Regions from separate parts of the Homo sapiens genome. Here region 1 is linked to region 2. The links come from fine-mapping of genetic effects on gene expression. A gene starts in region 2. The other region holds a variant in brackets. All regions are shown on one strand. Distances are from middle to middle. Region 1 overlaps MTSS1 (MTSS I-BAR domain containing 1). Region 2 holds the start of NDUFB9 (NADH:ubiquinone oxidoreductase subunit B9).

The links.
Region 1: its variant is fine-mapped to the expression of NDUFB9 in whole blood (TOPMed, PIP above 0.99).

What each region holds. Positions count from the first base shown.
Region 1 is chr8:124,555,206-124,563,819 of GRCh38, forward strand. MTSS1 (MTSS I-BAR domain containing 1) reads right to left here. Exons shown (of 14, transcript NM_014751.6): 10 at 7,577-7,787; 11 at 2,476-2,670; 12 at 1,027-1,200; 13 at 537-699. Among named protein-coding and RNA genes, the nearest start is that of NDUFB9, 20 kb to the left of the region's middle. RefSeq lists a silencer at 6,771-6,860. The variant C/T (reference allele first, on the strand shown) is at 4,037.
Region 2 is chr8:124,534,190-124,543,605 of GRCh38, forward strand. NDUFB9 (NADH:ubiquinone oxidoreductase subunit B9) reads left to right here and starts at 4,934. Exons shown (of 4, transcript NM_005005.3): 1 at 4,934-5,098; 2 at 8,898-9,090. The coding sequence starts at 4,998. It overlaps TATDN1 (TatD DNase domain containing 1), which reads right to left and starts at 4,896. Exons shown (of 12, transcript NM_032026.4): 1 at 4,836-4,896. The coding sequence starts at 4,857. RefSeq lists an enhancer at 4,757-4,826.

The DNA.
Region 1 (8,614 bases), 21 kb after region 2:
TGCAAAACGCAAAAAGCTGTGAAAGTCCAGATCCCTTTATTTATTATTATTTTTTTTTGAGACAGAGTCTTGCTCTGTCACCCGGGCTGGAGTGCAGTGGCGCGATCTCAGCTCACTGCAAGCTCTGCCTCCTGGGTTCACGCCATTCTCCTGCCTCAGCCTCCTGAGTAGCTGGGACTACAGGCGCCTGCCACCACGCCCGGCTAATTTTTTTGTATTTTTAGTAGAGATGGGGTTTCACCATGTTAGCCAGGATAGTCTCGATCTCCTGACCTCGTGATCCACCTGCCTTGGCCTCCCAAAGTGCTGGGATTACAGGCGTGAGCCACTGCGCCCGACCCCAGATCCCTTTCTTATATGGCAGCTACCTGACAACTACAGATGAGCTCCCCAAAGCATTCCCAGATGACGAAAACAATCCTGACACCTGTTAGTTAGCGAGTGGTGGGTTGTGGTTAAAATGGACCAGCAGTTTTCTATCTCCTCACCTGGTGCTGCTCAGAAAGCCTAAGTGCACACCCCAGGCTGCCTCGTACCTTGGGAAGGGATGGTGTCCTCAGAGCAGCAGGGGGTGGTTGTCTGGGTGCTGTAGCCGCTGGAGCACTGAAGCGAGTCCCGGCTGCTCCTCTGGGTGTCCAGCTGCAGGCCCCGAGACAGGGCCAGGGCCAGCTCCTCACAAGCCTCCATCTCCTCACCAGGCTGCAGGTTGGAGGAGAGAAATACACAGGTTGCTTTAGGGGGGGGGCTCAACAGCACTCCTGTTCTGCCCCCGTGAGCACTACATGTCTGTGGGGCCAGGGGGCTATTGACTTGCTTGGGTCCCACTCTGACCCTAGAAAGTTCTGCCTCTCTCATTCCCACACAAGGTTTTTTTCCCAGGGACTTTGCTGTAGAGCAGGAAGTCAGGGAATGGAGCCCAGGTCCCTCCAGCTGCAAGGCTGCCTTGGCCCCCCAGTTGCTGGCCAGAATGTGATCCCCAGCCAGGCTGAGGTGGCCCCAACCAGCTACTGAGAACAAGAGCATCACCCTGGTGGCAGCCGATACAGTCATGCTCCGTGGTCTCTGAGCCTCCTCAGCTGCTGCAGGTGGGCCGCTGGCGGTAGTGGGTCCTCCCCCGTTGGGGTCCGGTTCTCGCTTCTCTTTGCGGCGCTGCAGGGTGTTCACCAGAGGCTGGTCATAGGGCCCAGGCTTAGCCCAGTCCTATGCAAAACAAGTGCGGTCAGGAGCCAGGGCCTCTGCCTCCACTGGAGGGCTGCGGGGACCCCATAGACAGCTCCCCAGAGAAGGCAGCTGGTCCCCTTAAGGGGAACCTCCGGCTGGGACAAGCCACAGGCCCTCTGCATGCCCTCTCCAGGCTCTAAAGGGCAAGGAATGGAAACCCTTTGGGAGCCCCCTGTGTACCTCCCTTTTCCTCGTCTCTGCCCAAAGATTAAAAACCCTCACCCACCAGGTGGCAGCAGGAGACCCGGCAGCCACCTAACAGGTGACCGGTGTAAGCTAAGGGGACCCACCAGTGGGCAGTACATCGTGCTTCTCCTGTCTGAAGGGACCAGCGCTCCTTAACAACCCAGATGGCTTCCCGTTAGGGGAATGGCCACCAGCGAGCACTAAAGCAACATCAGCCCTTCTCCCTCCATTCCCAGGAAACCAGCCTCAAAGGGCATGGCAGGCTCCCTGCCCTCTCAAGCCCTCAGAAGGAAAGGAAGGCGCCCAGGGGCAGTAGAAAGATTCCGAGAAGCCTTGAGAGGCCCACACCGCCTGTGAGGGCTAAAGTCAAAACCTGCTTAAAACGCTGGCAGCCAAGGGGCCTACTTTTCAAATTAGGGTCCTCCTCTCAAAAGAGAGCAGATTATCCTCCTGGAGGAGCATTGATCGGACTTGCTAGGGGATCATTTTCAAAGTTCGTCTTTATATTAAAGCAAACATGTTTGAACACTCAAGACTAAAACTAAAGTCTGCGTGTACTGTTAAGTTCAACATGATCACCCCAAACCTGCTTTGGGTTATGGTTCTGTTACCACAGCCCAGCAGGGAGCTCATTAGGGAAAATGGGAAACATGGCCAGAAGGAAAGTCCCCCCTAAACCCCCTAGAAGCTCTGATCATGCTGACACCCTCAGGTGGCCCCCGGGAGGGACCAACCCATAGATTTCAACTTGATGCAAAACTGGGCCTTTGGACTTGGAATTGCCGCTGCCTGCGGTGCACACTGCACTGCCGTCCATCAGGGATTGACCAAAGTCCCCTGAAGGAAGACCCTCAGCCCCAGCTACCTGTGGAAATTGCTGTCTTAGAGCTGCCGGCTGCTTTCTGCTTCTCCCCCAATGGGAGTTTCCTGAGGGAGAGGCATTATGGGGAAGAAGGCAGAGTGTGAAAGGAAGGGGATGAGGGGATAGTCGGGGTGAGGGGGTTGGAACAGAAGAGGGGTGAGCACAGAGGCAATGACGGGGAGAGGAGGAGGGGGAGAGACACAAACCTTCCAGCTAGGGATCTGAGATGACGGGAACATGCCGGGCCCAATGGTGTAATAATGAGCGTAGTCTGGAAGGTGGACAGAGGTGACCCGAGGGAGCAGGCGGGAGGCAGGCAGGCAATGAGGGAAAAGGCCTGCACCCGTGGGCCCCACGTGGGACTCACTTGATAAACTATAGTGAGAAAACCCGTTAGACAACTGGAAACAAACAAAAAAAGGGGGGGGGAAGGAAAAAAAATTAATATAACAGGATGAGTGCGGAGATACAAAATGGCATTGACATTCAAGGGAGGGGAAACCTGAATATTTATAAATAAAACAAACATTGGGGCTCTGCTGCTCACGGATGATCTGTGATGCAAGAGAAAAGAGCCGGGGTGCAAAGAATGCACATGAGTTTGACAGCAAATAAGCATCTATGTTTGACCTACGTTTTAGAAGTTTGGAAATTGATCAGTGCCCTCAATTTGTGGCCTTGTCAATGGTTTTTGATAATGTAACTAATGAAGCCTCATTTAATGGTGATAGTGATTTGCTCATTTCATTATGCAAATTTAAAAATTCCAAAGCATCTTCAAATGAATCTGTTCATTCTAGGTTTCCAAAATCATCGCATTGCTCAGGAGCACATTCTCAATCAAGGGCAGGGGGGTGGGGGTGCAAACTAAAAAGCGGAAAAGCACACAGCCTCTGACACAGTGACATGGCTCATCCAACGGTCTGGTGGGTGGCTCGGGAAGGGAGGGAGGAGGATGGACAGGCACGCAACACCTGGTCTGGGAGAAAGCCTTCACACCTCCAAATTCCCCATACCCCTTCCTCTCCCTTGAGACAACCATGTGGTCATTGTCCAGCAGCCAGGCACTCATTCTAGAAAATGCCCTCAGCCTTGTCCCACCCTCTGTCCCCAAGAGGAGCCCCACTCTTGGTGTCGATTCTGAGCTTCCAGGTTGCCGCGGCTGTGAGGGCTGTCTGAGCAGCAGGCAGGGGGACCAGGGAGAGTGGGGCCGCTGTGGCTGCCACCCGGGCGGTCACCTTCTCTGTGGACACCCAGGCACCCATGGTGGAGCCCGAGCTGACAGAGGTGGGGGAGCTGCACTCGCTCACTGACTGGCAGGTTTCCGAGGCTTCGGAGGAGGCCGAGCTGGACGAGTTCTGCAGCAGGGGAGGGGCCACACGAGGGGACCAACAGAAACCGAGCCACACACCACCAAAATATAATAAATAAAAAAAGGAATGGGGATGGGAGTGGGGAAGGGCACACACAGAGAGAAAGAGACAGACATATACACAGAAGAGGGGAGGATGAGAGAAGCAGAGGGTTAGGGTTACTTTTCCCCCAAAGTTGCATCCATGCAGAGGCTTTCGAGCCCTTGAAAAGAAGCGTGCGACCCGGCCAGCCCTAGGTCACTAGACTGTGGGTCCCCAAGGACACGGATTTGTGTGTCTTTTGCTGGGACCCAGAAGCATGCCTGGCACCGAAATATCTGGTCATGGCATTGGGACTTCGTGCTCTCTTGGGTGTTTCTTCACGTGCCACAGGCCCAGGTCCCCAGGGAGGCCC[C/T]GCCTGTCACCTCTCTTATGTGCATAGGTGTTATTTATTGCATGAGGGCGGACCCCAGCTCGGGCTTTTGCTACATGTCTGCCTGGAATGGCTCGACTTCCTGGAGTCTCCTTTCATCAAATGCAGCCTGTGGATCCATGAGGGGTGGTTTCCAGCTATGAAGCCTCATCAAGACAGACTTTTAGGTTTCTCATCCTGGAGTGTGATTTTGGGGTTTGGGGCAGTGAAGCCCTCTGGTCAGCACAATGTTTCTGGTGGCCATTGTGGGGTGGAATGAACCATCTCTGGAGAGGTCTCATTTGGGAAACCATCGCTTTACACTGATCTGATGGAACCCCAGGTCCCTGCTGGAGTCCTAGTCAGCCACGGCATGCGCTCCCAGTCTGGCTTCCTGATGTTCAGCTGGGGCAGGGACTGTTCCTATGATCTCACCTACACCCAAGTTTCTTCTAGTTCTGGACCTGGCACATGGCTGGTGCTCAAAACATAATGAATGAGTGACAATGATCATCTCTGTCACGTAAGTTGGGTCTCCTGGGCACTGCTTTGCATCCATCCAGGTACTTGCTTTAAATTTTTTCACTGTTAACTGCAATCTCTGGCTTAACCTCAGTTTGTTTAAATAAGCTGACTCCTCTCTATTGTAATTTATCTGAAAGTGTTCCTGTATTCACCATCAAGGAGGCCAGAATCATATTTCTGTCCCTTTCACCTACAAAAGAAAGGTCCCTACAAAGGAACAGAGATTTCGCTTTCCTGTCCTGTAAGGGCAAGGAGACAATCAGACACTCAACAATGTGTGGGGCTCAGTGGACCCAAAGCAAGGAGAGACTCCACGGTGGACGGACATCCCAGCTGCACTCTGAGCTCAGTGTCTGGTTAGCAGCCCAGGATTTGAAGATGGAAGGTTTGGATTTAAGTCACATTTGTGCCAATTCCCAGTCGAGAAACTGAACTTAAAAAATTTGAGGTTTAGAGGGCTTTATCAACAAAAAACAGCCAGATGTGGTGGCTCATGCCTGTAATCCTGGCACTTTGGGAGGCCAAGGCAGGAAGACTGCTTGAGGCTAGGAATTGGAGAACAGCCTGGGCAAGATAGCAAGACCTCATCTCTACAAAAAATAAAAAATGTAAAAGAGGAAAGGAGTGAGGGTTGAAAAATTGCCTATCAGAGACAATGCTCACTATTTGGGTAATGGAAATAGAAGCCCAATCCTCACCAGTATGCAAGGCACATGTATTCTCAAATCTAAAATAAAATTAGCCAAGCATGGTGGCACATGCCTATAGTCCCAGCTACTTGGTAGGCTGAGGTAGGAGAATTGCCTGAATCCAGGAGTTCAAGGTTACAGTGACCTATGATCCCGCCACTGCACTTCATCCTGGGCAACAGAGTGAGACCCTGTCTCAAAAAAAACGAACAAAAATAAAACAACAAAACAGTAACCCACCGCAGGACTGCAGGTTCAGATTTCTTTGGAATTATGCTCATTTTTTATAAAGAACCTCTTGACTCAGATGGAATAAATGGCTCTAGGGTGAGACCCTCATTGAAGACATGGCCCCACTCCTGGGCACAGATGGGTGAGGGCACAATTTGAAGAGTGGAGGGAGGTAAACCAGAGAATTCTGAACAAATTCCATCACTCGGCTTTCATCTCAGACCTGTGTTACTCAGTAGAGAAATGAAGGGCTCCTGCGCCTCCTAGATGTATGCCCCCTTTCTCCCTAATAAAGGGGAGGTTACTGCCTTCAGGAGATTGTACCCTCTGGCTAATGTGATCTGTACAATGACCTTCAATTTCCCCTTTACCTTATAATAATAAGCAGTCGTAATGCCTTTCTTAAAAAATAAGAATTCTCTATTAAGTTTTGTAGCATCCCTGAGCTCATTAAAACTACCCTAGTGGCCGGGCGCGGTGGCTCATGCCTGTAATTCCAGAATTTTGGGAGACCGAGGTGGGCGGATCACCTGAGGTCAGCCTGACCAGCCTGGCAAAAGCCCACCTCTACTAAAAATACAAAAGTTAGCTGGGAATGGTGGCGCGTGCCTGTAATCCCAGCTACTTGGGAGGCTGAGGCAGGAGAATCGCTTGAACCCAGGAGGTGGAGGTTACAGTGAGCCAACATTGCACCACTGCACTCCAGCCTGGGGTGACAAAGCGAGACTGTCTTAAAAACATAACATGACAAAACAAAAAGCTACCCTAGAGTTGCTAGCCACGCATGTCTTGGGCACAGGTTTTCAGATTTAAGTAAACCCAATATGCCCTCTTCTGCTTCCCTCCATGCCATGGGAAACACTCTGTTCTACCCCATCCACACTCACAGTCTTGGAAGGGAAGGCTGCAGCACGTGGCTTCTCCTTTTCAGAAAGGGGCGTCAGTGCACACTACTATGTTAATTTGTCAATTAAACACACACACACAATTATGCTGCACACTAGAACAGCCCGGAGGAACTGCACATTCCAGCCCTCCTCCCGACCCTTTGCCCTCTCTGCTTGTGAGCAGCACATATGGTTTAGTGAAGCACACAGCGGGGAAGAGGAGCTCCTTACAGACCAAGCCAAGCACCCCAGGTGGGACACGCACTCTCAAGCACTCTCAAACTATAGCCGTGGCTCTTGGCTCTGAGTGCGTTTAAAATTGAGTGTGTATCCAAGGAAGGCAGACAGAGGCCACAGTCCCCAGGATGGCTGAAAAATGCTAATGGGAGCGCTGAGCTGTGAGGAGAGGAACGCAGAGCTCTGACATGGGTTTCCCAGCAGGTGGGGCTGTGGGGCACCCAGCATTCTGTATGTAGAGCTACTTGCCAAGTTCAAGGCCGACACCAACCCAATGACACTAAGGGAGAGAGGACAGAGAGAGGATCACATACATTGATGATGCACATGAAGAGTGTTCAGATGCCCTGGCCAGCTCCTGCGTTCTGCTCCAGCTGGAACCACTGGGCTGGGCTGGGCCTAGCACCATTAAACCCAGCTGTAGTTGAAGAGATTCTGCCACACCTTCCCTTCCAGAATCTAAGTGCCAACAGAATTATGTGCAGAAGCTCTGATGATTCATTCTCATTCTCAACACAGATTGATAAAAGGAACCTGAGAGCGCCAAGGGATGGTATCGGAAGCGCTATTCAACCATAGAATCTCAGCCATTCAGGGAGAACCTGAGATGTGGGGGAGGAGGTGTCCCCATTGTGCAATGCCCTTTAATTATAGCATTTAATTATGCCAAGCTGGGCACTTACAGGGACGCCTGAGAGTGGTCAAACCTCTTTCAATCCATCTACTTACGTGAGAGCTCCCCAAATCGATGTGGTAATGCAACCATTACCACCATGGAGACAGGCTTCAAACCCACTTATAGCACCTCTCCCTTTAGGGGAACAATACATCTAAAGATGAGAAATTAAACCAGAGGTTTCTCAAGTCAGTGGGCAGGGGATTGTCTAAGCCAAGGTGCTTCTTTGGTTCTGGCCACTGACAGTGGTCAGGACACCAGGTGTGACAGCTGCTCCTGGAGCCAAGGGCACCCTTACCTGGTTGGGGGCCTCTGGCGGCATGGGGGATGGTGACTTGGACTGGAAGGCATCCTGGGATATGAATCCTGAGTCATGGGAGGACACGCTGGACAGCCTCACAGGAGCCTGCTGGGCCAGGTTGGAGCTGCGGTAGCGGTAATGTGAGCTGGGGGAATGCGAGTGGGAGCCGCTGGACCGGGAGTCACTGCTGTTGACACTGTTCAGGCTGCTGTGGAGGACAAGCAGGGGTGAGGGGTGGGCACGGAAGGTAAAGAAAGGGGAGCAGTGGTAAGAGGAAGGAGGAAGGAGGGGAACAGATGAGGCAGAAGAGAGAGAAGCACAACATAATGCAATTAGCTCTCTGCCCTGGAGATGCAGTGCAAACCACAAAACACGTTTTCAAAACACCAAATCATGAAGGTAGTCAACAAAATGCTTTTCCAGGTGACCCAGGGGGAAATACAGCTGCCAGGACTCAGGTCTCCGATGGTAACCATGTGGCATTCTTACGAGGGAGGTCTGGGGTTCTAAAACGTCAAGTGCGCCCAACTCTGCTGCTTCGCCTACCACCAAAACGAGGGGAGCTGATGTCAGTAGCAAGAAAAGGGACAGGGTTAATCTGCCTGCAGGAACCATGAGCCTGCAGCAAAAGTCCACTGGGGCTTCAGCATGACTGGAATGTTCTTGGATGGACCATCTGGGTCCACATGACCAAGGCCAACCCAGCTAAGCACTGCCGATGGATTTGCTGAGGTGATTTCATCCTAGCTGAGTCTGGTCAAGCCCGCTGTCAAGAACATCAGCAAATCAACTCACTATGTTGGTGTGCATATGTTTTACCTTTTAACAAAGTGATGCTTTAATTAATGTTTTTACTCTGACCCCAGCTGTTTCTGTGTTAAAATATCTGTGGGTCTGGCACAATAGCACACTTGGCAAGAGGCAGGCAGCTTTCAGCGACTAAGGGCAATCAATGCTCAGCTGTTTGCTCTTGAAATGGCACAGTAAACAGGATGTCAAATAATGACACACCCGCTCTGGATTTCTGTCTGCCTT
Region 2 (9,416 bases):
AGAGCAAGGGATTGGTAAACTAAGGCCCACAAGCCACTGCCTACTTTTGTTTGCCTCTAAGCTAAGAATGACTTTACATTTTTAAATAGTTGAAGAAAATCAAAAGAATATTTTGTGACACATCAAAATTATAAGAACTTCAAGTTTCAGTGACCGTAAGTTTTACTGGAACATAGCCACACCTATTTACATACTGTCTATCACCTGCTTTTGAATGACAAGGTGTGAGATAGGAAAAAATGCAAACTGCTTTCTCCTACAGTATTCTCATACTCACAATACTCTGAATTTTTTGTTTGTTTGTTTTAAGTAGAGATGGGGTCTCACTTTGTTGCCCAGGCTGGTCTTGAACTCCCGGGCTCAAGCAGTCCTCCCACCTTGGCCTCCCAAAGTGCTTGGATTACAGGCGTGAGGATTCACTTCTGACGTCAGGTATGTGTGGGGTTTCCTCTCCCAACAACCAATTCTCTGACACCAGCTGGGTGACCTATAATTTAACTCAATTCTCACACTATCTACCTGGATATAACATCAGACCGCAGAGGTCAAGGGCTCAGTCCCACAAGACTCTCCCCATTTCAGATACCAATTACAAGCAGTAGGTTCCCAGGTTACCCACAACTTGTCTAACTTGGCTACAATAAGAGGTTCCCACAACCCCCTTCTCAGGTTTGATCATTTGCTAGAGCAGCTCACGGAACTCAGGAAAGCACTTTACTTATTACCCATTCATTGTAAAAAGATGCCATTCAAAAACGGCCAGGTGGAAGAGACACATAGAGACATGTATGGGTTTTTATAGAGGCTTCACCATGTAGGTATGATTGATTAAATCACTGGCCATTAGTGAACAACTCAACCTTCAGTTTCTCTCCCCTTCCCCAGAAGTGGGAGTGGGTGGGAGGGACTGAAACTTCCAACTCTCTAATCACATGATGGGTTTTCCTAGGCAAACCCCCATCCTGAGGCTATCCAGGAGCCCCCAGCCATCAGTCATCTTAGCAGCATACAAAAAGACACTTAGCACTTAGGAGATTCCAAGGGTTTCAGGAGTTGTGCACAAAGAAATGGGAGCAGAGAACACACACGTATTTACTATTACATCACAGTACACAAAAGGGCAGAGTTGAATAGCTGCAATAGAGATCACGTGGCCCTCAAAGTCTAAAATATTTACTATATGGCCCTTTAAGGAAAAAGTTTGCAAACCTCTGCACTTGATTCAAAAATTTAAGGAACAACCAAATGTGTGGCTCTAAATGGGATACCATTTTGGACATGACCACCAAGGGACATTTTTGGAACAACAGGAAAAATTTGAGTATGATTTTGGTACTAGTTAAGATGAACATTTCCTGAAATGGAAAGGTGGAGACTGTGATTGAAAAAAGCAGAGCACAAAAGAGTAGCCTCAGTATGATCTTATTTTGTTTGGTATGCCTACAGAAGATCTGGAAAGATAGACATGGTGGTGTTATGTGTGATTTGGAGGAACTGTATTAATCTGCTTTTGCATTGCTATAAAGGAATACCTGAGACTGGGTGATTTATAAAGAAAAGAGGTGTATTTGGCTCATGGTTCTGCAGGTTGTACAAGATGCATGACACCAACATCTGCTTTTGGGAGGATCTCAGTAAGCTTCCAATCCTGGTGGAAAGGGAAGGGGAGCCAGTGTGAACTCATTACCACAGGGAGGCCATCAAGCCTTTCATGAGGGATCCACCCCCATGAGATGGATGTTGGGAAGTGACCCAAACACCTCCCACTGGACCACCTCAACATTGGAGAGCAAATTTTAACATGAGATTTGGAGGGGACAAATATCTAAACTATATCAGGAATGGAATATGATGTTTTTATTTTCACTGTTGTTTGTATTTTGCATTTTCTTCTTGCACAGATATTTCTCATTTTTTGGTGTACTATGTAGTCTAAGATCAATGCAGTAGAGATTCTGGCATATAATAGTTACAGGTAGAAGTATTTTTGAGAGTGGAAGAGTTTGTAAATAACACCCAGGGAATAGAATTCCACTTGTGGAGACAGAAAAGAGAGTATAAGCTGGGCTAAAGAAATTCTCATGCTGGCCAGTGGCTCCACGTGTAATCCCAGAACTTTGGGAGGCGGAGGTGGAAGGACTGCTTAAGGCCAGCAATTCAAGACCAGCCTGAGCAACATAGCAGGACACAGTGGTCTACAAAAAAAAATTAGCCTGGTATGGTGGTGAGCACCTCTAGTCTCAGCTACTTGGGAGGATGAGGCAGGAAGATCACTTGAGCCTAGGAGGTCAATGCTGGAGCCATGATCTAAGCCACTGTACTCCAGCCTAGGTGACAGAGCAAGACCCTGTCTCAAAACAAACAAAAACCCCCACTGTTGGGGTATAGTTCTAAGGGGCAGCCACTTGTTATGCAAGTAGAAAAGAGAGAAATGTAGAAAGAATTACAATGGTCAGCTGTCTTAAACCAAAATCTAAGGTAATTTTCATAAAATGGGTTCAATTTTTCATGCAATTGTCCCATGTGAAGCTTGTTCCAGGGATTTAATATGATGTTTTTCAAAATATTGTTCAGAACTCATTATTAGGCTAAGAAATTAGTCTAGCGATTCATGGGCAGAATTTTTTAAATGACACAAACTGAAAGATTAAATATCAGAGTAAGTCATATACCAAGGATAGAATGCATAATATGATCTCATTTCTGTTTCAAAAGGAAAAAAAAAAACCTTGATATGTTGTATTTTTATGAATCTGTATAACAATCTATTAAAAAATTAGGGAAGGCTATACTTCAAACTTTTAATATGGTTACTTTAGGAGAGTGGGGCTAAAGGAAACCATACAGAAAAAAATTTATTTCAATTATTTATTCCAATAAAGTCACCTTCTTTAAGAAGTCTTTTCTTGCTTATTTTATCTGATGCTAATCCCTTTACTAATTTTCTTATCACCTTAGCACTAAAGCCACTCATTCATACTTTCCCAAACAGTCATTGTACTACGCCCCTAGGAAAAAAATATAAATACCATACCAGTATCTGCCTTAAGAGTTTGATCTAGTGGGAAAGGCATACTCATATTTAATTATAAATAATGTGGTATAAGTTTTAAGGAGTGAGTAGGCAGACAGGCAACAGGGTAGTTGGTAGGCAGAGGAATATTTTGGCCCCAAACTGCCACTCTAAAACCTTGTCAGAGGTAACAAACAGCATGCACAAGTGTTTATAGAGCAGCCCAGGGATGGGCTAGAAAAGTGGGCAGGACTGGACCACAGAAGGGCTTTGTATGGTGTGTAAGCATTTAGGCTATCCTGAGGAGCGTAAATGAAAGATTTGAAGCAAAAGAAACATTTAGCTGATTTGATTTTTAGATACACCAAAATGGAGTCTACATGGAGGATGGATTTAAGACATTAACTTGAGGCAGGAATTTGGTTGTATAACATAAACACACTTTTAAAAAGTTATGTGGCCTTTCTTTACGGAGTACTTCATGGCTCTTTATTCCATCTCCCTCATCAATTATATCAAAGGTTAGGATGGAAAGGCTAAGACACGGCAATGTCTTATTTGACAACCCCTCCCCAAACCCCTACTCCAGGCTTTCCCACAGCAATTTCAAAACCTTTTTCCTGGCACTTAACATATTCTCCCCTGCATTTGCTTTTGACTGTACAGTACATAGGTCTTAGGTCTCCAGTCTGAAAACTGCACCACTAGATTTTACAGTTCCACAGGACTTAGCACAACGTCTTTGAAAAAAAAAAATACTGCTTAAATAACTCTCAGATCTAAATGTATAATCCTAATCTCTTGATTGCCAGACCACATTCCCAATTGCCCAGATATCTCTACCTGGATGTCCTATAATTATCTCAAACTTAACCTAATCCAAATGGACCTGGGTACCTCTCTTCACCGCCAAACTAGTCATGCTTCCATTTCATATTTAAGTACTTTTCCAAACCCTGAGTCATCTTTGTTCACTCTCTACTACCGGCCATGAACACTCAGCTGCTAAATGCTGCACACATCTCTTCCATTTCTCTCTCTTTTCCATTACCCTAGTTTAAGCTCTTGAAATGCTTCCCTACCTCTCCCTATTTCCCACAAAACCTACATAATAGCTATCAGGATTACCTTGCTAAAGCAGAGGTGTGATCACTGTCATTTCCCACCTTCAGGTAGCTGGAAACCCCACAAAACGAGGATCATGCCCATTTAAATCCCGCAGCATTCTCCCTCTCGTTCTACTGATGCCGACTGGATCATTGTACTTGCCAAGTACAGTTTGTTTTTCTCCCCATTACTTGTGTTTTCTAGTTTCTCCACCAGATGGTGATGACAGTACAACTGGGAGCTTTGTGCCCTGTGTTCCTAGGCCAGTGCCAGGCCCACTTGAGGCGCTCACTAACTATGATATGAACGAATGAATGCTTGAGTGAATTGGTCCCCAGAAGCGGTCAGCCTCTCCGCCAAGGCAGAGGGGAAGGGCCGGGAGGTGCACGTGGGATGAATGGAAACATAGTGATTGGCCTTTTTGGAGTTTTCTTCTTAAAAAACTGAATACATTACAGATGTTGAAAACAGCACAAAAATCATAACTGTACGGCTTGTTAATTTTTACAAATAAATACACCCTCGTGAATCCAGAACCTAGATCAAGAACCAGAGCATTACCAGCACCCAGAAACCTCCCCGCGCCCTCCTCCACTGAGCGGCCCTTTCAACCCTTACAATGCCGGAGGGCGCAATTCCTGGGTCCTGTGACCTTGGTGACCGACGCCCGGGACAAGTCAGAAAGACCCAAGGGCGTGGAAAACGCTCCTCTTACCGATAAACTTGAAGCGACTCATGACTGCGCATGGAGGACCTCCCCAGCGGAAGCGGAAGTGGCCGCCGGCAACTCCGCCCTTCCGGCTGGCCCCGCTCAGTCACCCGCAGCAGGCGTGCAGTTTCCCGGCTCTCCGCGCGGCCGGGGAAGGTCAGCGCCGTAATGGCGTTCTTGGCGTCGGGACCCTACCTGACCCATCAGCAAAAGGTGTTGCGGCTTTATAAGCGGGCGCTACGCCACCTCGAGTCGTGGTGCGTCCAGAGGTAAGGGATGGGGACCCAGGACTCGGGGAGGTGACCCTCGGGGCCCCATGGAGGTGGAGAGGCCCCTGGGTACCTGGAGGTTCAAGGACTTCGGGAACGGAATTGGAAGGTGGCCTCTCGCTTCACAGAATCCTATGGTAGACCCGGGTTCAAATCCAGGCTTCGCCACTTATGGCCGGGAGACCTTGTAGAGTTGCTTGTCGGGTCTGGGCGTCAGCTTTTTGTTTAGTAAAACGGACGCACGACCAGCGCAGAGGGTCGCAGGAAAATTAAGTGAAATAAAGGAAAGTGCCTAAAATTGTAATTGTCATGGGTCCAGCGCTCGCTCAATCGTTTTCTTCACGATCTTCTCCTTTCCAATATTAACAGCAATAAACTATGCATTATTTTCTTCAGTCTGCAAAACTCTAGGAGTTAGGAATTATCTTAAGCTTATTTTACAGATAAGAAGATGAGCACAGCTGGTAACTTGCGCAAGGTGATAGAGTTTCTAAGTGTCTGAGCCAGGGTTAAAATTTAGGTCTTTCTCCAAAGCATCATCATTCTCCCACCCCTCCCATTAGCTTTTCTCTTTTTAGCTTCATCTAGTCCTTTTCATTACCTTTACATCTTTTTCACCTCTTACATAATTCTCTTTCGACCTCTATCCGTCTGAGACTAGTCTGAGAACATAGTGTTAAAATGTGTAGATTTTAATCACCTAAATTCATTGCAGGGTGGGCTAACAACCCAAGATGTGTGAGTGCCTCGCCTCCACTCCAGTCTTACGACTCTCCAAACGTAGTTTTATAAGAAGGCCTTCTGGGAAAAAAACTCTATGGAAAATGGAGTAGGCCTGGAAGAATTACAGAGGGTACCCTCGAAGCCCAGATTGCATATATGTGACTATTAGAAAATCACTGACATACTTCTCTTGATTTGGCAGGAAGATGGCCAAGTACAATGTGATGGGATTGTTAGTTTCTTCCTTGAGTTTTCCTTATTTATTTATTGATTTGACAGAATTTGCAATTCAGATTCTATGCTCTATGCTAAATATATAAATGTTAGTAAATCCATTTTTGAGCAGCAGCAGCTCACGGATTAGTGGGGAAAATGGACATGTAAACAAATCGATGATGAAGGAAGTTGAGCCATCAGGGATTCAGGTATCCCAACACAAATGGTAAATGTTTGAGGTGATGAATATCCAAATTACCCTGATTTGATCATTATACATTATATGGATGTATTAAAATATCACATGTACCCCATAAATAGGTACAATAATTATGTGTCAAAAAAAGTTAAACATGAAAAAAAGAATTCAAGCAATACTGAACTATAGCTGGGAATACTAAAGTCCATAGTTCTAGAGGAAAATGATATAAACTAGCTACTATGACAGTTATGGCTCAGCATTTTTTAGATCTGACATTCTTTCTCAATCCTTGCCTTAATTTCTTCCTCCATTTGCCCTCATTGTGCTGTTCTCTGTGGTTCCATCCTAGGCATACTGTGTTGTTGTATGTACTCGGGCAGCCTCATTTAGTGCTGTCACCACCTGCGCTCATTTGTCTCTAGAGCTGTAGTTCGAATTGCTTGTTAGATCACGACTGTTGGCTGGGCATGATGGCTCACGCCTATAATCCCAGTACTTTGGGAGGCTGAGGTGAGTGGATCACCTGAGGCCAGGAGTTCAACAGCCTGGCCTACATGTGAAACCGCGTCTCTACTAAAAATACAAAAATTAGCCAGGCGTGGTGGTGGGTGCCTGTAATCCCAGCTACTCATGAGGCTGAGGCAGAAGAACCGCTTGAACCTGGGAGGCAGAGGCTGCAGTGAGCCGAGATAGCCCCATTGCACTCCAGCCTGGGCGACAAGAGTGAAACTTTGTCTCAAAAAATAATAATAAAAAAAAAATTGAAAAGATCACCAACCGTTCTCTCAATCTCCATTTATCTAAATTCTTTGAAATCAAACTTGTTTTCCTGTCACTCCCCATTCTGACTCTTTTCCCAAATTCCCTGCCTCCGCTAATGGTATTATTAGTAATTCAGTTACTGAGCTTTAAGTCTCAGAATTGTTCTCAAGTATTTGCTCCTTATTCCTTTGCCAATAACACACATACTCATACACCATGTATAATTAGACACTGGTTTTTATAAATTCTCTTTCCAGTATGATATTAGTAACTGACATTATTTAACACTTGGGATGTACCAGGCACTTTTTAAAGTGTGTTTATCTTATTGACTGTTTATGACAACCTTAAGATATACACACTGTTATTGCCACTGTTTTACAGAGGAGGAACCCGTGGCCTAGAAGACTTTTTTTGTTTGTTTTTTTGTTAGACGGAGTTTCGCTTATGTTGCCCAGGCTGGAGTGCAGTGGCGCGATCTTGGCTCACCGCAAGTTCCGTCTCCCGGGTTCAAGCAATTCTCCTGCCTCAGTCTCCCGAGTAGCTGGGATTACAGGCATGCGCCACCACGCCTGGCTAATTTTTGTATTTTTAGTAGAGACGGGGTTTTGCCATGTTGGCCAGGCTGGTCTTGAACTCCTGACCTCAGGTGACCTCCACCTCAGCCTCCCAAAGTGCTGGGATTACAGGCGTGAGCCACCGTGCCTGGCCTTTTTGTTGTTGTTGTTGTTGTTTTTTTTTGAGATGAAGTCTCGCTCTTGTCCCCCAGGCTGGAGTGCAAATGGCACAATCTCGACTCACTGCAACCTCTGCCTCCCGGGTTCAAGCTATTCTCCTGCCTTGGCCCCCAGAGTAGCTGGGATTACAGGTGCCTGCCACCACGCCCGGCTAGTTTTTGTATTTTTAGCTGAGACGGGATTTCACCATGTTGGCCAGGCTGGTGTAGAACTCCTCACCTCAGATGATCCCCCTGCCTTGGCCTCCCAAAGTGCTGGGATTACAGGCGTGAGCCACCATGCCCGGCCTCATTTTTGTATTTTTAGTAGAGACGGGGTTTCTCCATGTTGATCAGGCTTGTCTTGAACTCCAGACCTCAGGTGATCCACACGCCTTGGCCTCCCAACGTGCTGGGATTACAGGTGTGAGCCACCGCACCTGACCAGAAGACAGTAACTTACCCCAAGTTACACAGCTAGTAGTGGCAGAGCTAAGATTCAGGCCCATACAGTCTGACTGGAGAGCCTATTCTCATAACTTGGAAGTCTCAATGTCTCCCCTGTCTCCTGTCACCATCACAGCTCCGTACTTTCAGGCCCTCGTCAGCTGTGTCCTAGATTATTGTCAAAACCTCCTAACTGATCTTTGCCCAGTTTCTTTAGAACTTGACTTTAACTTGCCTAAGTTTATGCAGCTAGTGTCAGAGTCAGGATACAAACCTAGCTCTGTATGAGCTAAGCAATACTGTTTCTGCCAAGTAACACCTTTCTTATTCATCTTTGTATCTCCAGAATTTAGCATAGTGACTAGCACAAGATAGAAGGAAATGGAAGTTGTCATTCAATGAATGTTGAATGATCCTGCAGAGGTTATAGCTTTTCTCTTGCGAATGCTCTTTTCTTTTTTTTTTTTTTTTTTTTTGTTTAAATCCTCATTCCATTGTTGGATGTAAGAGGAGAAAAATGGTTAGGGTATATATTTAATACAGTATTTTTTTGCTGCTGCTGTTTGGTGGGCTGTAGAGGAAGCAGCCATGATGATACGGCTGCTCCATTGGGAGGGTTGGGGTAGGTCCACTGCCCATCCAGAAGGTATCAGAAGTGCAGCCTCCTGTCAGACAGCAACACTGACCACGTGAGTAGGTAACATTTCTAATCTTCAAAATCATTTTGGTTTAAGAGACAAATACCGATACTTTGCTTGTTTGATGAGAGCCCGGTTTGAAGAACATAAGAATGAAAAGGATATGGCGAAGGCCACCCAGCTGCTGAAGGAGGCCGAGGAAGAATTCTGGTACCGTCAGCATCCACAGCCATACATCTTCCCTGACTCTCCTGGGGGCACCTCCTATGAGAGATACGATTGCTACAAGGTAGGTGAGAATTATGATGACTGCCTTCTGAGAAATAGACTTTGTTTCTTCAGTCCCACACCTCAGCCTCAGAAATCACTTGCCCTTCAAGGGGTAGCTAGGAGACTTATTTCCTGACAGTTGTCAGATGCAGGCCTACCTCATTTTATTGCATTTTGTTTTATTGTGCTTGGCAGATATTGTATTTTCACAGATTGAAAGTTTGTGGCAACCCCGTGCTGAGCAAGTCTGTGGGCACCATTTTTCCAACAGCATGTGCTCACTCCCTGTCTCTGTTTCTCAGTTTGGCAATTCTTGCAATATTTCAAACTTTTTTTTATTATTAC